Homo sapiens: one gene and its partners. The protein of the gene in region 1 binds, or shares a complex with, the protein of each later gene. Links are inferred from orthologs where the notes say so. Each region holds a gene or a part of one and is shown in the gene's direction. Other genes may lie near its edges. The genes, in order: TNNI2, TNNC1 and TNNC2.

The links.
Region 2: the proteins of TNNI2 (region 1) and TNNC1 are in contact, whole or in part, in an NMR structure (PDB 2MKP), measured with the Homo sapiens proteins. Residues at the interface, in NP_001139301.1 of Homo sapiens: Arg116, Met117, Ser118, Ala119, Asp120, Ala121, Met122, Leu123, Ala125, Leu126, Leu127, Lys130, His131, Lys132; in NP_003271.1 of Homo sapiens: Asn18 (codon at 6,571), Glu19 (codon at 6,574), Phe20 (codon at 6,807), Ala22 (codon at 6,813), Ala23 (codon at 6,816), Ile26 (codon at 6,825), Val44 (codon at 6,879), Met45 (codon at 6,882), Met47 (codon at 6,888), Leu48 (codon at 6,891), Gln50 (codon at 6,897), Pro52 (codon at 6,903), Glu56 (codon at 6,915), Phe77 (codon at 7,225), Met80 (codon at 7,234), Met81 (codon at 7,237), Cys84 (codon at 7,246), Met85 (codon at 7,249), Lys86 (codon at 7,252), Asp87 (codon at 7,255).
Region 3: the proteins of TNNI2 (region 1) and TNNC2 are in contact, whole or in part, in a crystal structure (PDB 1A2X), measured with the Oryctolagus cuniculus proteins. The link is inferred for Homo sapiens from one-to-one orthologs. Residues at the interface, in NP_001076252.1 of Oryctolagus cuniculus: Glu5, Asn8, Arg9, Ile11, Thr12, Arg14, Arg15, Gln16, His17, Leu18, Lys19, Ser20, Val21, Met22, Leu23, Ile25, Ala26, Glu29, Leu30, Glu33; in NP_001076114.1 of Oryctolagus cuniculus: Ser13, Glu15, Met16, Ala18, Glu19, Ala22, Lys91, Leu96, Glu98, Cys99, Arg101, Ile102, Phe103, Arg105, Ile119, Phe120, Ala122, Ser123, Glu125, His126, Val127, Glu131, Ser134, Leu135, Asp138, Phe152, Met155, Met156, Val159, Gln160.

What each region holds. Positions count from the first base shown.
Region 1 is NC_000011.10:1,834,437-1,842,006, forward strand, and holds TNNI2 (troponin I, fast skeletal muscle), read left to right. Parts: upstream 1-4,544; 5' UTR 4,545-4,597; intron 4,598-5,032; exon of another isoform or gene 5,033-5,091; intron 5,092-5,238; 5' UTR 5,239-5,260; coding exon 5,261-5,268; intron 5,269-5,412; coding exon 5,413-5,419; intron 5,420-5,770; exon of another isoform or gene 5,771-5,787; coding exon of another isoform or gene 5,788-5,802; intron 5,803-5,966; coding exon 5,967-6,008; intron 6,009-6,091; coding exon 6,092-6,220; intron 6,221-6,382; coding exon 6,383-6,472; intron 6,473-6,594; coding exon 6,595-6,771; intron 6,772-7,019; coding exon 7,020-7,115; 3' UTR 7,116-7,242; downstream 7,243-7,570. Other genes in the region: SYT8 (synaptotagmin-8), read left to right, coding at 149-181, 658-763, 860-1,023, 1,450-1,548, 1,690-1,848, 1,989-2,156, 2,320-2,425, 2,521-2,654 and 1 more. UniProt on the Homo sapiens protein: Troponin I is the inhibitory subunit of troponin, the thin filament regulatory complex which confers calcium-sensitivity to striated muscle actomyosin ATPase activity.
Region 2 is NC_000003.12:52,450,996-52,459,056, reverse strand, and holds TNNC1 (troponin C, slow skeletal and cardiac muscles), read left to right. Parts: upstream 1-5,015; 5' UTR 5,016-5,041; coding exon 5,042-5,065; intron 5,066-6,543; coding exon 6,544-6,574; intron 6,575-6,804; coding exon 6,805-6,951; intron 6,952-7,198; coding exon 7,199-7,313; intron 7,314-7,529; coding exon 7,530-7,666; intron 7,667-7,750; coding exon 7,751-7,782; 3' UTR 7,783-7,957; downstream 7,958-8,061. Other genes in the region: NISCH (nischarin), read right to left, coding at 213-395, 1,131-1,214, 3,323-3,415. UniProt on the Homo sapiens protein: Troponin is the central regulatory protein of striated muscle contraction. Tn consists of three components: Tn-I which is the inhibitor of actomyosin ATPase, Tn-T which contains the binding site for tropomyosin and Tn-C.
Region 3 is NC_000020.11:45,824,277-45,832,243, reverse strand, and holds the start of TNNC2 (troponin C, skeletal muscle), read left to right. Parts: upstream 1-4,931; 5' UTR 4,932-4,995; coding exon 4,996-4,998; intron 4,999-7,409; coding exon 7,410-7,461; intron 7,462-7,605; coding exon 7,606-7,749; intron 7,750-7,837; coding exon 7,838-7,952; intron 7,953-7,967. UniProt on the Homo sapiens protein: Troponin is the central regulatory protein of striated muscle contraction. Tn consists of three components: Tn-I which is the inhibitor of actomyosin ATPase, Tn-T which contains the binding site for tropomyosin and Tn-C.

The sequences.
Region 1 (7,570 bases):
GCCCTGAGCCCCTGCCAGGAATGCACCTTTAGCCCAGGCCTGCTCAGTGAGCTCCGCCGACAGCCAGCCCTGCTCCTCCCGCCATGACCCTGCAGACCCCTCTGGGCTTCCAAGTTCCTGGGGGCTGCAGTGAACATGCTCCACCTGCATGGCTGGCAAACCATGGTGGGCCCCAGCTGTGGTGCGTGCTGGGGTAGAGGCAAGGAAGTGATGGGACCGCAGAGATGAGACCCCCAGGGATGAGATGGGACCCCCAGGCAGGGCCCAGGGTCCAGGGCCCAGGAGAGAGAAGCAGGGAGGGAGAGAGCTTCCTGGTGGAGGACGCATCCTACAGTGGGGGCAAGGGTGCTCTGAGGTCCGGTGAAGGCAGGGACTAGGCTGCCCAGGCCCTGCCTGCTTGGCTGGGGCTGGGGGCTGCTGGGAGGTGGCTGGGAGGCTGGGCCTGGGCAGCTAAGCTGGAGCTTTGGCCAGGGTCCAGAGCCTCCCTCCCTTCAGCTTCCTGCTGCACAGAACCCTCGCCCCTGGCCACCCCGTGCTGCCTCCTTGCCCTGGCAGACCCAGCACTGGCTGCTGCTAGTCAGATGGGGTAGCGGGCAGGGGCCGGAGGGGCCACCCTCCCAGCTGACCCAGCCTCCTGGGCCGCTTCTTCCAAACCAGCAGGGTAGAAAGATGGGGCACCCACCAGTCTCTCCCAGTGCCCCGGCCCCAGCTGGCACCACAGCTATACCTGGGCTTATTCCAGACCTTGTCGCCGGGACCCCCTGTGAGTTGTGGGATTCCCAAGAGGGGTGTGGGGATAACCCAGCCAAGTGGGGGCTGCAGCTGTCCACAGATGCACTCAGCCTGGCCTCTACCCCAGGGCCCCGCTGGGCTCTCATTGCCGGCGCCCTTGCCGCGGGCGTCCTCCTCGTCTCCTGCCTCCTCTGTGCTGCCTGCTGCTGCTGCCGCCGCCACAGGAAGAAGCCCAGGGACAAGGAGTCCGTGGGTCTGGGCAGTGCCCGCGGCACCACCACCACCCACCTGGTGAGGAGCGGCTCCTTGCTCACTCAGTCCAGAGAGGGCTTGAAATCCAGGCTCCAGAGCCCAGGGCAGCGAGGCGAGTTCAGCCCCAGGGATGGTTTAACCCCCACAGAGGCAGGGCGTTGAGGACCTTCCTGGCAGGGAAAGTGGGTGAACAGAGGTGAGAAGGAGGCCATGCAACAGGGGCTGCCCCATGGGCCCGAGGGAGCCACAGCGGGTTCTTGAGGAAGGCAGGGGGTACCCCAGATGCCACGTTTTGGGTGGGTTTGGCCGGTCTCACAGAGCGAAGCCGACGATTTGTGCCTGTTGGGTGGCCTGGCCTGGAGGCGGGGGGTCTTGACCCATGTCATGCAAGGGCTGCCCGGGAGCCCAGGGCTCTGATGAGGCATGATGTCAGCACCACCTGCCCCTTGTCCCAACTCACTCCAGGTGCAACCTGATGTGGATGGCCTGGAGTCCAGCCCGGGGGATGCTCAGCAATGGGGGTGCCTGCAGCTCTCCCTGGAGTTCGACTTTGGAAGCCAGGAGGTGAAGGGCCCCGCTGCGCAGGACCAGCGGTTCTGCGAGTTTCCGGAAAGGGTGACGGGGGAAGGGCAGACCCCATGCCCTGGGTGGTGGGGAGCTGACAGGGCAGGGGCCCTTGGCTGAGCCCACCCCGCTGGCTCCCAGATCAGGGTGGGCCTGAGGCAGGCAGCCGACCTGAGGCCTGGGGGCACCGTGGACCCCTATGCCCGGGTCAGCGTCTCCACCCAGGCCGGACACAGACATGAGACAAAAGTGCACCGAGGCACGCTCTGCCCCGTGTTTGACGAGACCTGCTGCTTCCACGTGAGTCAGGGATGGTCGGCTGGGTGGGCCTGGACGGCTGGATGGGCCTGGGCTGGGTGGGCCTGGGCAGCTGGGTGGGCCTGGGCAGCTGGGTGGGCCTGAGCTAGGGCAGCAGGGCCTGGCTCACGCCGCTGCCTCAGATCCCGCAGGCGGAGCTGCCAGGGGCCACCCTGCAGGTGCAGCTTTTCAACTTCAAGCGCTTCTCGGGGCATGAGCCCCTGGGTGAGCTCCGTCTGCCACTGGGCACCGTGGATCTGCAGCATGTTCTGGAGCACTGGTACCTGCTGGGCCCGCCGGCTGCCACTCAGGTGAGGTGCTGGTCACCAGGCCACAGCCCAAGGCAGAGCTGGCAGGGACCCTGCCCTATGGGCCATCGGAAAGACAGGCCTGATGGGCAGCATTTTCGGGGGTCTGAGCCCCAACTCGGCCAGAATCACCCTCCCGGGCTGAAGCCCCTCTTGCTGCCCACAGCCCGAGCAGGTCGGGGAGCTGTGCTTCTCTCTCCGGTACGTGCCCAGCTCAGGCCGGCTGACCGTGGTGGTGCTGGAGGCTCGAGGCCTGCGTCCAGGACTTGCAGGTGAGGGTCACACCTGCCCACGTTGTTGTACAGAGGGGGGGCCCGTGCTCAGCCCCGAGCCCTGGGATGCCCCTTCGGCAACCTTGCCCTCCCAGAGCCCTACGTGAAGGTCCAGCTCATGCTGAACCAGAGGAAGTGGAAGAAGAGAAAGACAGCCACCAAAAAGGGCACGGCGGCCCCCTACTTCAATGAGGCCTTCACCTTCCTGGTGCCCTTCAGCCAGGTCCAGGTGGGCCACCGGGAGGCAGGGGCAGAGCGAGACCCAGTGCCAGACCACGATGACTGTGGTCTTTCTCCCCCAACTCCAACCTCTGGCCTGTCTCTGCACAGAATGTGGACCTGGTGCTGGCTGTCTGGGACCGCAGCCTGCCGCTCCGAACTGAGCCCGTAGGCAAGGTGCACCTGGGTGCCCGGGCCTCGGGGCAGCCCCTGCAGCACTGGGCAGACATGCTGGCCCACGCCCGGCGGCCCATTGCCCAGCGGCACCCCCTGCGGCCAGCCAGGGAGGTGGACCGCATGCTGGCCCTGCAGCCCCGCCTTCGCCTGCGCCTGCCCTTGCCCCACTCCTGAATGCACCACATGCCTCTGTCTCCCCGCTGAGCCCAGGCACTTGCCCAGGCCGCCCTGCAGGACCACTGCAATAAACGCCTTCTCCTGCCACTGTGTGTCCGGCTGGAGCCTGGAGGGGATGCAGAAATAGGGCCCGGGCCCGCTCACCAGGGTCCCCTGACAAGGACGGGGGAGGGGCTCCTCTCCAGACTCAGCCAGGCCCTGAGGCCTCTGACCGGTCCCTGCTTGACCCTCGGGTAGGGGTGGGGAACCTCCCCGGGGAGCACAGATCTCCCCTCTCCGGGCCGCCTGGGAAGACCGGGGAGGTGGGGGCCAGAGAGTCGGGACCACATGGGATGGGGCGGGCTAGAGCCAGCCCTGTAGGGACAGAGTGGGCAATGGTGTCTGGGGGCTGGTGAGCATGGAGGGAGGACCCCCAACACCTCAGAGACCTGTGCTGCAGGGCCTTCCCTGCATGAGCAGCAGGGGGCAGCAGATGCCTTCGGAAGCCGCTGGGGCCTTTAGGGGCTCAGTCCTGGCCGGATGCCCCTCCCAGTCCCCACACATCTGGGCTGCCTTAGCGGCTGGGGCCTCCACGCTGCTGTCTCCTCTGATCCTCCCCACGGGGCTGCGAAGCCGGCAGGGCTGGGGCCAAGAGCCCCCACTCCGAGAGGGTGCCAAGTCACGGTCCAGGGGACCTCTGCAGGGCGGGGGCCTGGGGGCTGGGGGGGCGATGGCCTCGGGCCTGGGTGAAAAGGGCAATGCCAGGCCTGCCCGGGCAGCCAGGAGGGCCCCAAGCCCCCACGGGTGTGAGAGGCTCCCAATGCAGGTGGCGCCATTCTCCTTAGGTTGAAGGATGTGTTCCAAGTCGCCCGGCAAGGGGACTGCAGCAGGGCGTTCTGGGCAGGCGGGAGGGGCCCAGAGGCACGTGCGGCGTGCCCCTCACTCCTGGTCCTGCTCCCCAGGCAGGAAGATAGCATCACGCAGGGAGGGGGCAGCCCCCAGCCCTCGGCCACTGTGGCAGGGCCCAGAAGGCCACATCTGGAGGTCCAGGCCTCACCCCAGAAGCCAGGCTTGCAGAAGGGGGTCAGGCCTGGGCTGAAGTGGGAAACCCATTGCAGGGGCTGAGCCGGGGAGCTGGCCCCGCAGGGAGAGGCTGTGGCTGTCGCCAGCAAGCAGCCAGGTTGGTGGACTGGACGCTGACCTCGGGTGAGATGGGCTGAGGCGAGGTGTGGATACTCGCAGCTACCCCTCAGCTGACCCGAGCTGTGTGCCCGGCTGAGGCCACAGGCAAAGCCAGGGACACTGTCCTCAGGCTCCTTACGAGAACGACAGAGGCATCTCCAGCGCGTCACCGAGCCCTAAATAGAGTAGCCCAGCCACGGCACCCCCCACCAAGACTTCTTGGACTGGGCGGCAGCACGCGGCCAGGCCAGGCGGCCGGACAGGTGGGGAGGTCTCTGTGGCTCTCCACGCCCCCATTGGTCTGAGGAGGACTCTATGCCCTTTCTGAGCAGGGGCCCAGCCTGGGGGAGGCCATTTATACCCCTCCCCCTGGGCCCACCAGCCCAACTCGCCGCTGCCGGCCTGACCTCGCTCCCAGCCCTGCTGCCCAGATTCTAGGTGAGGCCCAGCCCGGCCCGCCGAGGCCGGGGGACAGGGCGTGGCTCGAGCTGGTTTGAGGGAGGACTTCCTGGGGCGGGGGTCTGGGGGCCTGGGGGATGCCACCAGCAGCCCCCTTTGGGGCCTGCACGGGTCCGGGAGTGAGAAGGAGAGGCTTTGGGGAGGCAGCTGTAGCGAGAGGCAGGTATTAGACACTCCCTGACCACCAGGCTTCACCTCTGGGGACCCTGGAAGGAGAGTTTAGGGGTCAAGAAGCCCCAGAACCTGAGCCCCCAGGCCAAACTGAGGAGGGATTTCTTCCATGCACTTAGGCCCAAAGCCAAAGAGAGAGGGTTAAAAATAACAGCGTCACTCAGGCGGCCACCTGCGCTGGCCCATCCCACCCTCCCTCGGGGACAGCTGCAGCTCCTCAGGCTATGCCTGGGACATTTTGGGAACACTTTCTCCTCTTACTTCTCACCCTGGGGAATTCCAAGACATTGTCCTTGAAGGAGGTGAGAGTAGGGGGAGGAGGTGAGAGTAGGGGGTGGGCGGGAGGGGGCTGTCATCAGGAGCCCTGAACCCCTCACCACCTACCTGATGGGCACAGGCATCACGGTGGCAAGGGCCTGGCCAACACCTCTGTCTTCCTCTCCCCACAGGCTCCAAGCTCAGGACCTCAGGATGGGAGAGTAAGTGGTACCCCTGTACCCCCATACAGTGACCCTGCCCACCTCCTGCCCTGTCCACCCCATCACACACTCCGACCCCGCCAGCCATGGCCCTAACCTCTGTCTTCTCTCCCCGTCCTGCCTGCGTCCTCCCTCCCTGGACAGTGAGGAGGTAAGTAGTTGCTGGGGGCTCAAAACATGACGAGGAGGGGGCTCCCCCAACTCAGCATAGGTCATAGGTCACAGCCTCAAGGCCCTAAGGCCCAGAGAAGATGGCCTGGCCCTCCCCGCTGGCAAAAGTGCCCCACCCACCCACCAAGACGCTGCTGAAAGAGAGGAAGTGGCTGCCCCAAGCCTTCTGGGGCAGGGGAAGTGTGGCTGTGGCCTGGTCACAGGGGAATCACTTCTTCTTTCTGATTCCTGCACTTCCCGCCCCCACCTCACCGGCCGACCTGCCCCCAACTGGCCCTCCTCTCCCCCAGCCTCTGGCCTCCCAGCACCATGTGCCACCTGGCAAAGTGTCACACACCACACAGCACCATGTCCCAGTGCAAGGTCTGGGGCCAGGGAGGCCCAGCCTGCCCATCATGGCCTCAGGAGCCCCCAGGCTCTGCTGGTCCCGGAGCCGGAGCCCCTGACCTGGCCAGGGAGCGTGGAAGGGGGTGGGGGTGCTCCAGGCCTGGAGGCCCTGACTCGACCCCCTGTCCCCTGCCCTGCAGAAGCGGAACAGGGCCATCACGGCCCGCAGGCAGCACCTGAAGGTAGGTGTGGGCTCCCGGGGGGGTGGCCCAGGTGGGTCTGCAGGGGAGCTGGCTGCAGCCCCTCACCGCCTGCCCCACCGCAGAGTGTGATGCTGCAGATAGCGGCCACGGAGCTGGAGAAGGAGGAGAGCCGCCGTGAGGCAGAGAAGCAGAACTACCTGGCGGAGCACTGCCCGCCGCTGCATATCCCGGGCTCCATGTCTGAAGTGCAGGTACCAGCCCCTCCCCGGCCACCCCGCCTCCCCAGCAGCAGGCCTGCCTGCTAACTCAGTTTCCCCACTTGTCAAGAGGGCCAGTGGGGTGGTCAGGGCAGGGGCAGGTGACCGTGGCTGCCAAGTGTCAGGACGGCCGCCCGCCCCCACACCCACCCCTAGGAGCTCTGCAAACAGCTGCACGCCAAGATCGATGCGGCTGAAGAGGAGAAGTACGACATGGAGGTGAGGGTGCAGAAGACCAGCAAGGAGGTGAGTGGTGGCGGCGGGCCGGCGGCAGGCGGGTAGGCGGTGGCCCAGCGGGCAGGCGGGGCGGGCCGGGGAGGCCGAGACCACCGGGACCTCGGGCTCCCACCCGGCTCCCCTGCCCACAGCTGGAGGACATGAACCAGAAGCTATTTGATCTGCGGGGCAAGTTCAAGCGGCCCCCACTGCGGAGGGTGCGCATGTCGGCCGATGCCATGCTCAAGGCCCTGCTGGGCTCGAAGCACAAGGTGTGCATGGACCTGAGGGCCAACCTGAAGCAGGTCAAGAAGGAGGACACAGAGAAGGTGCGTGCCACGGGGGGAGCACCACCACACCTACCCTGCCGGGGAAGCACCTCCCACACCTGCCCCGCCTGGGGACCACCTCCCACACCTGCCCTGCCGGGGGCCCTGTACCACTGCCCCTCCAGGGTGCCATGCAGGGGACACTCCACTGCCCAATGCAGAGGGTAAACTGAGGCTGAAGGTGGTGTGGACCAGGGTGCGTGCATAAGTGGGTGAGCCTGAGCTCTCTCCTGCCCTCTCCTCCACAGGAGCGGGACCTGCGAGACGTGGGTGACTGGAGGAAGAACATCGAGGAGAAGTCTGGCATGGAGGGCCGGAAGAAGATGTTTGAGTCCGAGTCCTAGGCCACTCGCTGCCCCTACGCCTGCCCCGGTGCCCGGCTCCCAGCAGAACATACTAGGGAGATGCACCCAGAGCCTGCCAGGGAGGGCTGGCCTCACCACCACCGTCAATAAAGGATTTGAATCCCCATGGCTGGTCTGGTCTGGCTCTCCCCAGCCTCTTGGGCCATGCTCTGGGCCCCCGCATCGGTGGCCTGCAGTGTGGTCAGTGGCCAGCGGGGAAAGCCTGGGAGGAGGCCACACGGGGCCTGGGATTTCAGGTTGGGAGGGAAGCTGCTTCCAGCAAGGAGGTGAGCCTGGGAAGGCCCCTACAGGGGAATCCACCCCAGGCTGCACGGGGCTGTTTGGTGAGGGCCCTGATAGTGCCCCAGGCGTTCCTGGGGCTCGGCCTGGGCACATCCAACATGCAGGGCTGGGGATGGAGGCTGTGGGACCGAGCCAGGTCTGGGTGGGAGTTC
Region 2 (8,061 bases), on another chromosome or scaffold:
TCTGTGGCCACATTTAGTCTAATTTACGGCAAATCTGTCAACTAACATGCTTCTGGCCACAATGCATTCCTAACCAGGGTGACGTTCCTCCATCTTCTAACCTAGGGTCAAACCCCAGCCCACCTCAAAGCTGAGGTCTCCCCTGGTTTGCTGCCTCAAGTTTGGCAGTTGTGGGTTTGCAGGCACAGGTGAAAACCCGATGAGGAACTTACATAGAAGTGAAAATGCAAGAAGTGGGCCAGTACTCTGGGGGTCACGCCAGGGAAGGCAGCCAGGAGCTTCTGGAGGTAGACCTCCAGATCCTTCTCCCTCTTCTCCACCAAGCTTCTTGAGTTTTTCCCAATTATCTTTTTGGGCGGAAGCAGATTTTTATCAATCTTTCTCTCTGCAACGAGCTGTAAAAAAACATAAGCACATCAACCACAGACTAAGAGGCTCTGTGCCTATGTAAGACCAAGGCAAGAAGCTTGAGGGCAGGCGCTTGTCAGCACTTGCACAGCCCCTCCCTGCAGTAGTACCAAAATCAGTGACCAAACTAGTGCACCTGGGATTTGGCCTCTTTAAATCCAATTAGCATTAGAAATACCAATACAATTCTAGACAAGGAATTCCATCTGGAGACTTTAGAGACATTCAGAAAAGTAACACCTTTTGCCCCTAAAATTGCCATCTTTTCCAAGCCAGAGTAAAAACCAATCAGGGCAGCGGTGTGTCTTTAAAACAGTTATGCTGCAAATGACCCAGAGAAAGACAGCATCTCCAAAAGCAAAAAAAAGAGATGGAATCACAGCCAGATATTAAAGTAAGGCTTTGGAATAGCTATCGCTAGATCAAACAAGTTCAAACCTGTCCCCTTCCCAGGAAACTGTCTGAGCATCTCATACCCAAGCTAGGACTGGAAATATTAAAACTGAAATTCAAATATGCTCCTTGCAGAGTGGCTCATGCTAGAGCTGAAGGCTAGCATTTACATGCTATATTAATGAACGCAGTTATATTAACAAAGTGGTTTATTAAAGAACTATAGAGATGGAACCTGTTTTGCCCTAAAACTAATATGTGGCACAATGGAAAGTTGGCCTACGGGTCCCCCAGCCCTGAGATACGTGCTCCCAGCTCTTAACAGTTACCTTTTCATGCAGGTCATGGAAGTCGCTGTAGCGGTGCTTTACTGTCCACTCATGGCTGCCATCAGTGACCTGGATGATGTAAACCTAAAAGGGGAAACCAACAGCCCTTGTGGCAAGGGAGCCCAGCAACAAGGAGTCTCCTCCCCCAGCAGCAAAAGCTGCAATTATCTTTCCCAATTATCTTTTATCAGTCTTTCTCTCTGCAACTCAGACCCACCCCAAGGCCAAAGTCAGGCTGCCCTTGCCCACCAGCCTCTGCACCTGACCCTTGCTGACCAGCAGGGCCCCTCTCAGCTTCCTCCATGGCCCAAGCACTAGGGCTGGGAGGCACATGAGACAAGCATGTGGCTCCATCCATCAGTAAGGAATGAAAAAGGTGATTACCACAAGTCACCTCTTTAGTTTTTTACCTCCTGCCTCTAGGTAACTCAAAACCCAACCGGAGCTGCAGGCAAGGCCATTTCTTCCAAGGGAGGCAGAGCAGGGCCAGTTCTAGCCTGAGCATCTTCTCTGTTGTACTTCTTTCCAGGTGCCCTGACTACCTCCTGGAAGCAAGTCATTTTCCAACCCTTTCAACTGGTTCATGGCTGTGATTTCTGCTGCTGAGCCAGGAATCAAGGCACAAGCAGCTGATGTGGGGAGGGAGTGGTAGCAACTAAGCTCTATCAGGAGGCAATATGGCCTAGAGGTTAAGGAAGGCCTGGGTTAAAAACCTGGTTCTGCCATTTCCTGGCTGCAGCTTATGTGTCACTTATATAAGTAACTTGGAGCCTAAGTTCTCTCTGAGCCTTAGTTCCTCCATCTTAGAATCAAGGACCAAGTAAGGCAATGCATGTAAAATGCTTTGTACATGGGCCTGACCCATGGCAAGTGTTCAAAAGGTAGGTGTGTTAATAATGTCCAACTCGGCACACCCGGAGACAGAGGATGGTAGGGTCCAAACTAGATCACCACCTCCCCCGACATACATGCAGAGGAGGGGCGCAGTCCAGAATAGGGTGAGCTTTTTGAAGATGGCCCTCTGGCTGAATGTGCCCATAGCTGATGGCCAGTCAGCCATCAGCTTAGAGACCTCACCCGCCTCCTGCACCTAGTTTCCCCCTCCTCTCTGCAGCATGGAGCTGAAGCCTCCTCCAGCCCTGAGGAGCAGCCATTTCTCCAGGCTGGCCTGTTGCTTCAAGATCCACCCCTCTCCTCTTCCCATCCTGCCTGATTCCTTCCCCTTGCCTTCAGGAAAGGAGAAAAGAGCCAGAAGAATGGCCCTCAGAGCGGAAGGTTAGGATGAGGGCCAGGGAGGGGAGGTGCAGGCAGGCCCAAGGCCCCCACCCACTCCCTACCCTGCGGGAACAAAGGGGAGGAGGCAGGGAGGTGCTCTATGCCTAGTCCAGGGCCGGTTTTTGCCAGGCAGCCCACCAGGCTCACAGGCCTGGCATCCAACCCCGTCAAAGTCGGGAACTACCCGCTATTTGTCCTCTGTCTCCCCCATAGCTTAGAAGTGTGTGTGGGCAGCTTGTTGCCCCATCTCGCTCCCACAGCCCAAAGTCACGAAGATTCCTAAGGCTTATAGGGCCTGCGCTTTAGCACTGAGACCACCCCCATTTCTCCATAGATGGGCTCCACCCCTCCTCCGGTCTTGTCTCCGCCCGACCCCCAAGGCATCTGCTCCCCAGGTCTCTCCTGCACTTCTCAGAGAAAATCTCAACCACCACCTCAGGCTCCCCAGATCAGGGTCCTGACGCCTTCTCTTTCTTCAAGGCCTGCGAAGCCTGACCCTTTTCCCTGATTCCATCCATCAGAGACCCTCTCCCCATCGCCTTCCTCCTGGACCCCTGTAACGGTCTTCCAGGCCGGGGCCCCTCCAGTCCTAGAGGATCTAGAGGGGTTCCGCCTCATCTAGACACCCCCCTCCCCAAGCCCCCTTTATCCCCAGATGCCGCCCCCAACCCGAGCCTCCCTTTCTGATCGCGTACCCTTTTCCAAACCGCCTCCCCGGGCCCCGAGCAACCCTTCTCCCGGACCTGCGGGGCCCAGATCCCTTTCCTAGATCCCCCGTCCCAGCCCCCTCCTCGCAATCGCAGACCCTTCTACCCGCTCCTCGGGGCTGCAGATCCCGGACCCCTCCCCAAGCCCCCGAGTCGGACTCCCGGTTCCAGCCACCACCCCCGCTTCGGGTGCCCGCGCCCCCAACACACCGTATAAGTGTCCACAAGCTCCGAGCCCACGACGCGCGCTTCCTTGGCCGGCTCGGCTTCCCGCTCGGGCCCGAAGGTGCGCGCGGTCGCCATGTTCGGGTCTCCGCCGCCACCGCCGCCCGGCGCAGACTAGCAGCAGCAGGGGGCGGGGTCAACGTCCCACCGCCCCCCGGCCCCCGCCGCCCGTCGCCCCCGCCGCGCGCTGCGCCGCCATCTTGGCCCCGCCTTCTTCCTGCGCCCTCGCCCCGCCCCCGCGCGTGACTGACAGGGGCCACTCAGGGCGCGCGTGCGAGGTGCTCGCTTGCGTAATCTACCTGCGTGGCGCCGCCGGCGGTACCCTGCACAGCCTGCTAGAAACTGAGACCCCGGGTGGTGACAGCTCTGGGCATCGCCCCTGGGTCCTCGGGAAGAGGGGACAGAAGGTCCCGAGTCTCCCAGGCCACACGAAGCAAGTCACTGCTCTTCCTGGCCTCAGTTTACTCCTCCTGATAAAGGAGGCCATAATAGTGCCTCACCTGGCTGTTGGGCTCTTTCTCTTTAGGGCAAGGCAGGTTGGAGGGGAAAATAGGACCTGTGCTTACCGCCGGAGCAGGGCGAGAGTGATTCTGGGCCAGTTCTGAACCTCTCTGAGATTCGGAGATCTCTTGTCAGTGGGGCTTCTGGACAACTGAGTGGGTTGATTGATGCGCGGCCCAGCACGCAGTAGTGCTCGAGGCAGGGAGCGTGTTTATCAAGAGGGATAAACTTGATACGAACTCTGTACGAAGGAAGGTGTAGGTGGATGGAGGGGTGTGTGCTGCCACTGAGCACAAGAACCCCACGGGGTGGCCTGCCAAAGTTCAAAACGAGGGAGACAGGTTGATCTGGACCCAGGAACTACAGTGCTGAATCCTAAACCGGGGAAAGATGAGACCTAGAAGAGGGAGGTGGTAACCTAATTGGAGGGTGAGGAGGGAAAGAGCCTGCCACAGATGGGGCATCTATAGGGGTGCTGTTGAATAACTGAGAGCAGCTGACTTAAGCCCGAAGTGGGTACTTCTCCCTGGGCAGATGGGAGGTCTGGGACAGGCTCCTCTGGCAGAAGGGCTCCTGGCCACCCTGTCCTAAGGTGGGTCAGTCACTTCCTCCTTCACCAGTTCCACAGCATCTTACTATGAGCTTGGCATTCGAGGCTTCTCTTGGCAGGGCCCTGCACTCCTAGCCTCTCCTTGCACATTGCACCCCCATTCCAGAGAGGTTTAGTTAAAGGCGGGGGTTACCAAGTCAGTCAGATCTTGGGCAAGTCACCACTCCTCCAGAGCCTCAGTTTCCTTATCTGGAAAGTGGAGGTCATGGCAACCCGCCAACCTGGTTGGATGGGAGCCTGAGCTGTTGTGTTGCACCTTGCCTGGGGCCCACGACTTTGTAGCTCCTGTCCTGCACTGGGCTTATGTTTTCATTCATTCCAGAAACCTTTTCAGAGAGTCCCTTTGGGGAGTGTGGGGGACAGGAGGGAAAGAAACCTGGTCCTTGTAGCCGTTCGTCTGCTCCCTGCCCTGGGCAGAGGACGTGGGGACTCAGGCCAGCCTGAGATCACTGGGACCAGAGGAGGGGCTGGAGGATACTACACGCAGGGGTGGGCTGGGCTGGGCTGGGCTGGGCCAGGAATGCAGCGGGGCAGGGCTATTTAAGTCAAGGGCCGGCTGGCAACCCCAGCAAGCTGTCCTGTGAGCCGCCAGCATGGATGACATCTACAAGGCTGCGGTGAGGGACAGGGCTGGGTAGGGCTGGGGTGGGCAGGCCCACTGGGGGCTCACTCAGCTGAGAGTGCGGGGTTAGTAGCCCCAGGGAAGTGGTGGGGACCAAGGAGAAGGCCTACGTGCCTTCAACCCAGGCCCTCACAGGGACAGTGATTCTGGTGTTTGAGGATGCAGAAGGGGTAGGGGGTTCCGGGTCTGAAGGGTGGTGGAGGAGGTTGCAGCTTTCAGCATCGTGTCTCACTCTCTGTTTCCAAGTGTCTGTGGTCTGTGGCACTGTCGCTCAGCCACATGTCTCTGCATTTGTCTCTGGACGTTTTTGCCTTTCTCTTTTCATCTCTTCCTCCTGAGCTGTCTGAGTCCCCATTACTGTCTCCCTGTCCCCAACCCCCATTTCTGCCCCTCACATTCTGCTTCTCACATGCTCAAAATCTGCCACCCCACTCCAGCCCCTTGGCGGGCCGAAGATGCTTTGGAGGGTGGAGGGTGTGAGAGGAGGGGTCTGTAGAGCCTGAGTCCTGGGCTGGAGATGGGGCTTTGAAGTTTGAGGCAGGGAAGTTCTGGACATGAGGGAGAACCAAGGAAGAAGGAACAGAGAACTGGGGCCCCAGCTCCCATCATGCCTGGCAGGCTCAGGGCTCAGTGGCTTAGCTAGGGGTGAGAGCGAGGGAATGAGGGCTGGAGAGTGGTCACCCCAAGCCCCTGCAACCTCCTGGGTCACTGAGGGTCTTCAGATGCTATTCTATCCTGGGTGGTGGTGACCTCCCCCAACCCCAGAGCAAGGACATCCTGGCATGGCCAGCTGTCCCCAGGGGAACCCCTCCCTCAGCCTCCCTCACTCCTGGGCAGGGAAGTGCTATAGCCAGCTCTGGGGGCACGCCTGCTTATCCTGTGGGAGTCCATGGAGCCGGGGTTGGGACAGCCCTCCACCCAGTGCCCATACAAGGCCTGGCGGAGTTGGGGACTAATTTTGGCTTCTGAGGCGGCACTAGCAGGCCAGGGGGCCAGATAACGCTGCCCCACCCCCTGCATGCCAAAGTCCCCAGAACAATCACCAGGTTTAACTTTGTTCCTCGTTAAAAATAGCCCAGTGGCCACCCTGGTCAGGTTACCGTGGGTGGCTTGCCTGCCTCCACACTGGTTTTATTATCCCAACTTGAGGGACAGCTGTCCTTCGGGCCACCCAGCTTGAGTTTCATCAGGGGCCGAAAGGGCATTGAGTGGTCACTGACTATTGTTACTGAGGGTCACCTTGGTCCTGAAGGGGGTGCCCACCTGTCACCCTGGCCCTGAGCCCAGTCGCAGTGAGGCCAGCTGGGTCACGTCAGGGCTTTGGGGGCAGGGAGGGAGGACTGAGACCTCCACTCTGTGGCCTGGAAATAGCCTGCCTCCTCCAGCTCCAGCCTTCTCACCTGTGGAATGGGTTGGTTTCCTCAGCAGCAGCTATACCTGAGTCTGAGCCTTGAGATTCCCTTTCCTTTCTAGGTAGAGCAGCTGACAGAAGAGCAGAAAAATGGTGAGAATCCCTATCACACATGTGGGAGACCAGCGGGTCCAGGCTGGCATGGGGACCCCTTATCAGAAGAGGACCCCAGGCCAGAGACCAGAGGCTTGGTCCCTCTTGCTCTGCCCTCAGAGAGGTCTCCGAGGGAGGTGGGCAGGTTGGCAGGTGGCCCCAGGGTTCTGGCCCTCCGTGGTCCTGGCTGCTGAGCCCTGACTACTGTGCCCCCCAACCCCTGAACACAGAGTTCAAGGCAGCCTTCGACATCTTCGTGCTGGGCGCTGAGGATGGCTGCATCAGCACCAAGGAGCTGGGCAAGGTGATGAGGATGCTGGGCCAGAACCCCACCCCTGAGGAGCTGCAGGAGATGATCGATGAGGTGGACGAGGACGGTGAGCCCCCTCCTCCCCAGGCTCCAGAAGAACCCCAGCTGGCTGGGGGCTGGAATGCTGGCTCTGTTTAGCTGGGAGCAATTTAGCCTATCCGAGCCTTGGTTGCCTCATCTATAAAATGGGCATAAGGGCTACACAAGCCTGGCGTTTGGTGTGAGGATGCGGTGAGAACATGGGGGTTCGTGTCGAAGGTGCTGCCTGCAGTACCTACCCTGGCCTCTGTAACGGCCATGCTGCCCACCCCCAGGCAGCGGCACGGTGGACTTTGATGAGTTCCTGGTCATGATGGTTCGGTGCATGAAGGACGACAGCAAAGGGAAATCTGAGGAGGAGCTGTCTGACCTCTTCCGCATGTTTGACAAGTGAGCACGTGACCCTTGACCTCTGACCCTGACCCACACTCAAGCCGAGCTGTACAGGAGGGCAGTCTCAGATTCCAGGCCTAGGGACCCTGTGGCCTCTGCCTGATAGGGGAGAGGGATGCCCCATCTCCCAGTGTCCCTGCTCTGCCTCCTGGGGCATGGGTGGGGCTGCCTCATGCCCTCCCCACAGCCCTACCCTGAGCCCCCTCCCCACAGAAATGCTGATGGCTACATCGACCTGGATGAGCTGAAGATAATGCTGCAGGCTACAGGCGAGACCATCACGGAGGACGACATCGAGGAGCTCATGAAGGACGGAGACAAGAACAACGACGGCCGCATCGACTATGATGGTAAGCGGGTGGGTGGGCTGATCTCCTGCCTCCATGCCCTGCCCAGCCCCTACCCTCAACCCACACCTGCCCCTCTTTCCACAGAGTTCCTGGAGTTCATGAAGGGTGTGGAGTAGATGCTGACCTTCACCCAGAGCTGCCTATGCCCAGCCTCCAACTCCAGCTGAGTCCTGGGGTTGGGGAGGGGGTCGGGGTCCCAGGACCTGAGCCTGGCCATGTCCTCAACCCCAAATCCCCCGACTCCCTCCCCAGATCTGTCCTGGGGGATGCAAATAAAGCCTGCTCTCCCAAGGTCTGCTATCTGGCTCTGGTGTCCCTGGGCCGTGGACTCATCCCCAGGACCCACTCTTACCCAATGGCCGCTTCCTTCCCTGTCCTAGGCAGGCTGGCTGCAG
Region 3 (7,967 bases), on another chromosome or scaffold:
CTGCCTCCCAGGTTCAAGCAATTCTCCTGCCTCAGCCTCCTGAGTGGCTGGGACTACAGGCATGTGCCACCATGCGGCTAATTTTTGTATTTTTAGTAGAGGTGGGGTTTCACCATATTGGCCAGGCTGATCTGGAACACCTGGCCTCAAGTGATCCACCTGCCTCTACCTCCCAAAGTGCTGGGATTACAGGCGTGAGCCACTGTGCCTGGCCAGTTTGCACAATTTCAAACCTCGAATTACTCTTCATTTGGCTTATGGGCAAGATATTGGGACAAAAAAGGCATACTTCATTCATTAATTCAACACTCACTCATTCACCAACCATTGGTTAAAAAATAACTTGTCCTTCGGTATATGCCTTACATGTCTGGGCACAAAGCTGGTCTTCATGAAACCATGGGTTGTTAGAGCAGGAGGGCCCCTCAGAAATCTGGCCTATCACCTCCATTTTACAGATAGGTAGTCTGAGGCTTAGTGAGGGGAAGGGCTTATGCTGGGTCATATAAACAGTCAGAACTAGGAGATCTGAAGGTTGCGCATTCTCCACTATTATTATTTCTTCTTCTTTTTGCTTCCTTCTTCCTCCTCCTGCTTCTTCTTCCTTTTTTATTTATTTTTATTTATTTTATTTTTTTTGAGACAGAGTCTTACTCCATCACCCAGGCTGGAGTCCAATGGCACACTCTTGGCTCACTACAACCTCCATCTCCTGGGTTCAAGCGATTTTCCTGCCTCAAGTAATCCCAAGTAGCTGGAATTACAAGTAATCCCAAGTAGCTGGAATTACAGGCATGTGCCACCACACCCGGCTAATTTTTGTATTTTTAGTAGAGATGGGGTTTCACCATGTTGGCCAGGCTGGTCTCGAACTGCTGACCTCAAATGATCCACCTGCCTCAGCCTCCCAAAGTGCTGGGATTAGAGACATGAGCCACCGTGCCCGGCCTCTTCTTTCAGAGACAGAGTCTCACTCTGTTGTGAGGCTGGAGTGCAGGGGTGCGATCATAGCTCACTGCAGCCTCAAACTCCTGGGCTCAAGTGATTCTCCCACCTCAGCCTCCCAAGTATCTGGGACTACAGATATGTGCCCACCATGCCTGGCTAGTATTTTATTTTTTGTAAAGGTGGGGTTGCATGTTGCCCAGGCTGATCTTGAACTCTTGGCCTGAAGAGATCCTCCTACCTCTGCCTCCCAATGTGCTGGGATTACAAGTATGAGCTACCACCCACCATTCTTTGTTTTATTTTAATTTTTTAATTGGAGACAGCGTCTCGCCATGTTGCCCAGGCTGGTATTGAACTCCTGGGCTCAAGAGATCCACCTGCCTCAGCTTCCCAATGTGCTAGGATTAAAAGTGTGAGCCACTGCCCCCATTCTTAAATTCTGTATGGATATCTCCCTACAGCCTCCCTGAGAAATGGTCATCTAGCTCCTGTTTGGGTATACTCAGTGATACGGAGCTCATTACCTCCTGAGGCCACCTGTTCCCATTATTGTTCAACTATGACTATTAGGAAGTTCCCCCTTATATTGAACTAAATACCATCCAGTTCAGTTATTCTTATGTAGAATATAATATCTGTTGAACACCTGCTACATAGCAAGTGCTGAGCACTGGGAAATGTGATGATCTGTAGAACATAGAATGGGTTGTGAGCATAAGGTATGCTCAGTGCTATGATTGAGGAAACTACTAGAGACCACCTTGGACTCCCTGGTCTGGACACAGTGGGGGAAGGATCCCCGAGGAAGTGATGTTAGAGCTTAGAAAGATGATAGGGAAGTAGACAGATGAAGAGAGGAAAGATGGGAGTTTCTGGCAGAAAAAAACAGCATGTGCAAAGGCTTGAAGGTTCATAGAAGGTGGTGTTTAGAGTAGTCTTTTTTTTTTTTTTTTTTTTTTTGAGATGCAGTCTCCTTTTGTCGCCCAGGCTGGAGAGCAGTGGCATGATCTTGGCTCAGTGCAACCTTCGCCTGCCAGGTTCAAGTGATTCTTCTGCCTCAGCTTCCCAAGTAGCTGGGACTACAGGCGCCCACCACCACACCCAGCAGCAATTTTTTGTATTTTTAGTAGAGACAGGGTTTCACCATGCTGGCCAGGATGGTCTCGAACTCCTGACCTCGTGATCTGCCAGCCTGCACCTCCCAAAATGCTGGGATTACAGGCATGAGCCACCGTGCCCAGCCTAGAGCAGTATTTTAAAGTCTGATCAGAGCAGACAGCAACATGATGTGGAGGGAAGGAGTGAGATTAGAAGGGCCAATGGGACCTTGCTTGGCTACATTAAGCAATTTGGGCCTTACCTAATCCCTTGAATAAACAAAAGAACAAAGGCTGGGCTCAGGGGCTCATGCCTGTAATCCTAGCACTTTAGGAGGCTGAGGCAGGCGGATCACTTGAGGTCAGGAGTTTGAGACCAGCCTGGCCAACATGATGAAACTTTTTTTTTTTTTGAGACGGGGTCTTGCTCTGTTGCCCAGGCTGGAGTGCAGTGGTGTGATCTCGGCTCACTGCAAGCTCTGCCTCCCAGGTTCACACCATTCTCCTGCCTCAGCCTCAGCCTCCCAAGTAGCTGGGACTACAGGCGCCCACCACCATGCCCGGCTAATTTTTTTGTATTTTTAGTAGAGATGGGGTTTCACTGTGTTAGCCAGGATGGTCTCGATCTCCTGACCTCGTGATCCGCCCATCTCAGCCTCCCAAAGTGGTGGGATTACAGGCCTGAGCCACCGTGCCCGGTCGATGAAACCTTGTCTCTACAAAAAGTAAAAAATTTGCCGGGTGTGGTAGCTCACACCTGTAATCCCAGTGCTTTGGGAGGCTGAGGTGGGCGGATCACCTGAGGTTGGGAGTTTGAGACCAGCTTGACCAACATGGAGAAACCCTGTCTCTACTAAAAATACAAAATTAGCCGGGCATGGTGGCTCATGCCTGTAATTCCGGCTACTCGGGAGGCTGAGGCAGGAGAATTGCTTGAACCCAAGAGGCGGAGGTTGTGGTGAGCCGAGATTGCACCATTGTACTCCAGCCTGGGCAACAAGAGCAAAACTCTGTCTCAAAAAAAAAAAAAAAAAAAAACCAAAAACAAAAATTAGCTGGGCGTAGTGGTATGTGCCTGTAATCCTAGCTACTCAGAAGGCTGAGGCATGAGAATCACTTGAACCTAGGAGGCGGAGGGTGCAGTGAGCCGAGATTGTGCCACTGCATTCCAGCCTGGGTGACAGAGTGAGAGTCTGTCTCAAAAACAAAACCCCAAAAAACCAAAAAACAATAAAAACTAAATTGGAATCCCATGGGTCTCCCTCACCCTTTGGCACCCTGCCTGCCTGGGGGAGGCCTTATTTAGCTTGGCCCAGCCCTGCTGAGCTTTCCTTGGGAATGTCTATATATAGGGGAAGGGGGCAGCCCAGTTGCCACTGTCCATCTGCATTCCTTGGTGTCCAGCCCCCCTTTCCTGGCCCCAGAGCCTGCTATCGGTTGTCTTGGTGCTCTTTCTGTCCACGTAGCCACTGTCTACAAGCCTTGCCTACTCCCCAGTGCCCAGCCTGCACCTTGTGGATTCTCAGGTTGGGCTCCCTCTGGACTTGGTCTGCCCACCCCTTTACTCCCCAGATGACCAGATTTCTTCACTGAGCTCTAGGAAGGGGCCAGCTGTCCTTTTACCACTTAAAGAACCTTCCCCTGCCTACTCCTTACTTCAAAAAAAGTGAATCCAAACACCCTTTCCCTGGAGAAGGTAACTTTCAGAGAAGGATCTTTGCTTTCAATGATTATTTCTCCTCCAAATGCACATCCTCCTCTCCTCCATCCCTCCATACATTTTTCCATCTGGACAGGTGCCCCAAGGACTGTCTGTCCCAACTTCCCTCCAGTCAGGATTAATAATAAGAATCATCAACATGGGTGGGCATGGTGCCTCATGACTGTAATTCTAGCACTTTGGGAAACCAAGGTGGAAGGATCCCCTGAGCCTAGGAGTTCGAGACCAGCCTGGGCAACATGGTGAAACCCCATCTCTATAAAAATACAAAAAAAAAAAAAGCCAGGGGTGGTGGTGCACCTCTAGTCCCAGCTACTCGGGAGGCTGAAGTGGGAGGATCACTTGAGCCCAGGAGATAGAGGCTGCAGTGAGCTATAATAGCACCACTGCACATCAGCCTTGGTGACAGAGTGAGTATAGACCTTTATAATTTACAAAGCTCTGCAGTCAAGTGGGGATAATCGTTGCTACCTCATAGGAGGAGCACTAGATGAGATCATGTTAAAATGCTTAGCACAGTGTGTGGCACGTCATGGGGTTCAGTAAACAGTGGCCTACCTGTCACTTTCTCCTCCTATCCCCTGCCCCTTACCATGGTTCAAAGACGGGACATTCCTCTTGCCAAGCACCAACGCTGTGTACCCAGCACAAGCTAGGTGACTTATACCCGGGTTCCCATTTACCATGGTCTCTCTGTGAGGGAGACCCCACAGACAGGTCCAATCCCACAGATGAAGAAATGGCTCAGAGAGGCACTGCTACCGGCCCAAGGTCACACAACTCGCAGAGGCTGGCCTTGGATCTTGGGTTTTGGACTTCAAGGCTTGTACTCTCCCCATTTTACCATGCTGCCTCACCCTTTACTACTCTGATCATCCTTACCATCTTGGAGCCAGTGTGCTTCCTCGGTCGGGGGGACTCCAAGGCAGTGGAACAGGGCAGGCCTTCCTCACAAGAATCTAGGACGTCAAGGCCTGCCACCTGCTTGGAGGCTTAAATTTCTCTGCAAGGGCCCTTGGCTAAATTAGGTAATGGGTTCAGACTGTGGGAGGGGTGGGACTCGCTGACCCCAGGATCTGATTGGGCAGGGTCTCCAGTGCTGGGGAGCAGGGAGGTGGGAGGGGAGGGTGCCCCTACAAATCCCGGGGGCTAGAGCAGGCCAGGTCATCTTTGGGTGGTGGAGTGCAAAGGAGGCGACCTGCAACAGAGGAGTCCCGGTCACCAGCAACCATGGTAAGGACAAGAGGGGACTTTGTGCCTTTACTCACGGGAGCACTCTGGACCCCTTTCAGGCCAGGCCTGGGTGCTCTGTGGGGCAGTAACTTGGATGTTTGAGGTTGGAGCATGGAGGTTCCTGGAACCCAGGTGTCTTGGAGGAAGGCCTTTGACTTTTCTTGAAAGGGGAGGGCTGGGATATTCCAGAGATTGATCCTTAAGGCTTGCTGACTGCCTACTCACTTCTGGAAACTTCCAGCAGTGTCATTCATAGACCTGTGAAGAGCTCTTAGCTTGTTTCCTTCACACAGTGGGGACTCTGAGGGGTCAGAGTGAGTCACCCAGCAGGCCAGTGGCAGGGGTGAGCCAGAAGCCTGGCCAAACCCTCCTATCATCATGGAGAGAAGAAAGCCTCCTCCAGAAGACGGGAGGCCGGCAGGGCGTGGGGCCTGCTCAGATGCAGGGCTCTGGGAGCCCTGAGGATGATGGGAAGGGGCAGAAGATGACAGACCAGAGTTAGAGAGACTCCGCTCTCCTAGAGAGGGCTTCTGATTTGGAGCTGTTGTTTTGGTCTGAGATCCCCCTCCCCACTTCACTTCAAGGAGTAACTAGATCCCAGAGGCCAGCTGCTGTTGCCCATGCCTGACTAAAAATAGCCTGCCCTCCTGGCATAGGGAAAGAGGAGGAGAGGAAGGAGGGGGAGAAGGAGGAGCACTGGTGGCCAGCTGGCTGAAGAGCTCCTTGGAAGCCTCACCCTGTCCTCACTGCCAGCCTCAATCCAAAGCCTCTGACCCAGATGGCCTGGCTTGGATATGACGTGGAAACCCCTGCAGAAATCTCACTTTCATGTCAAGGCCTCCATCACATTCGGCCCCCCATGAGGGGCCTTTTCTCCAATGACTGAATCCTAAGAAGGAAGCTGACAGCCTCCGACTCTGCCAGTTCTCTGAGGGGCGGGATGATGTGTCTTTTATCTCTTCTTTGTGGTTCCAGTGCCTGATCTGTGGCCTGACATGCAGCAAGTACTCAATAACTTTGTGTTGCATTATTATTTATTTGAGAACAAACATTTTATTGAGCAACTATTAAAGTACCGGGCACCATTAGGAGCTGCAGAAAACTGGAAAATAGTGCTGGAATGGTGCTAGCCCTTTACAAAGCCCTTTCACACCCCTGATATCTCATCCCTGAAAAGCTACAGAGAAAAGATGAAGGCACGCTAATTGACGTGCCTAAGGTCACTGGGGGGTGGGGGGGGTTCCCGACTTGGCCTTCAATTGACAAGTGAGAAGGCCTTGGGCTTAACTTGTTGTCTCCTCTCTTTTGCTCAAAACTGGGGTCACAGGCTGCGCGCGGTGGCTCACGCCTGTAATCCCATCACTTTGGGAAGCTGAGGCAGGCAGATCGCCTAAGGTAGGGGGTTCGAGACCAGCCTGACCAACATGGAGAAACCTCATCTCTACTAAAAATACAAAATTAGCCGGGCGTTGTGGTGCATGCCTGTAATCCCAGCTACTCGGGAGGCTGAGGGAGAAGAATCGCTTGAACCCCGGAGGTGGGGGTTGCGGTTGTGGCGAGCTGAGATCGTGCCATTACACTGCAGCCTAGGCAACAAGAGCAAAACTCCGTCTCAAAACAAAACAAAACAAACAAACAAAAAAAACTGGGGTCAGGCCGGGCATGGTGGCTCACGCCTGTAATCCCAGCACTTTGGGAAGCCGAGGTGGGCGGATCACCTGATGTGAGGAGTTCAAGACCAGCCTGGCCAACATGGTAAAACCTCGTCTCTACTAAAAATACAAAAATTAGCTGGGCGTGTTGGCGCATGCCTGTAATCCCAGCTACTCGAGAGGCTGAGGGAGGAGAATCGCTTGAACCCAGGAGGTGGAGGTTGCAGTGAGCCGAGATCACGCCATTGCACTCCAGCCTGGGCGACAGGGCGAGACTGTCACAAAAACAAAAAGCAAAAACAAAAACTGGGGTCAGAAGCTGGGCACAGTGGCTCAAGCCTGTAATCCTAGCACTTTGGGAGGCCGAGGTGGCAGGATCACTTGAACCCAGGAGTTCAAAACCAGCCTGGGTAATATAGTGGGACCCCATCTCTACAAAAAATTTTAAAAATTAGGCGTGGTGTATGCTATAGTCCCAGCTACTCAGGAGGCTGAAGTGGGACGATTGCTTGAGCCCAGGAGGTTGAGGCTGCAGTGAGCTATGATCACACTACTGCACTCCAGCATGTGTGACAGAACGAGACAAAACAAAACTGTGATTGGGTGCTGTGCGGGCACACAATTATGTGACAAGTTTGAAGTTGTTCTTCTGGAGAACCAAGGGCGCTGACAGAGTGGGGGTTGGGAAGAATGGCTTTGAGGTGAGGAACTGCTCTGGGGCTGCCTCTTCAGCTCAGACTTTCTCTGTGTCTCCTGCAGACGGACCAGCAGGCTGAGGCCAGGTCCTACCTCAGCGAAGAGATGATCGCTGGTGAGTGAGGCGCGGCAGGCTGGGGGCTGGGTGGATGTATGCTGGGGACATGTTGGCCTCTAGGCAGGGTGGGGGTTGGGGGGGGGTAGGTGTGAGGCTGACAGTCCAGCAGGCCTCACCTCTGCCCTCTGCCCTCCCTCGCAGAGTTCAAGGCTGCCTTTGACATGTTTGATGCTGATGGTGGTGGGGACATCAGCGTCAAGGAGTTGGGCACGGTGATGAGGATGCTGGGCCAGACACCCACCAAGGAGGAGCTGGACGCCATCATCGAGGAGGTGGATGAGGACGGTGAGCGGGTGTCCCTCGGAGGCAGGGGATGGTGGGGAGAGGCGGCAGCGGCTGGGCTCAGGCTCAGTCTGCCACCTGCTGCCCGCAGGCAGCGGCACCATCGACTTCGAGGAGTTCTTGGTCATGATGGTGCGCCAGATGAAAGAGGACGCGAAAGGGAAGAGCGAGGAGGAGCTGGCCGAGTGCTTCCGCATCTTCGACAGGTGCGCTGGGGGCCC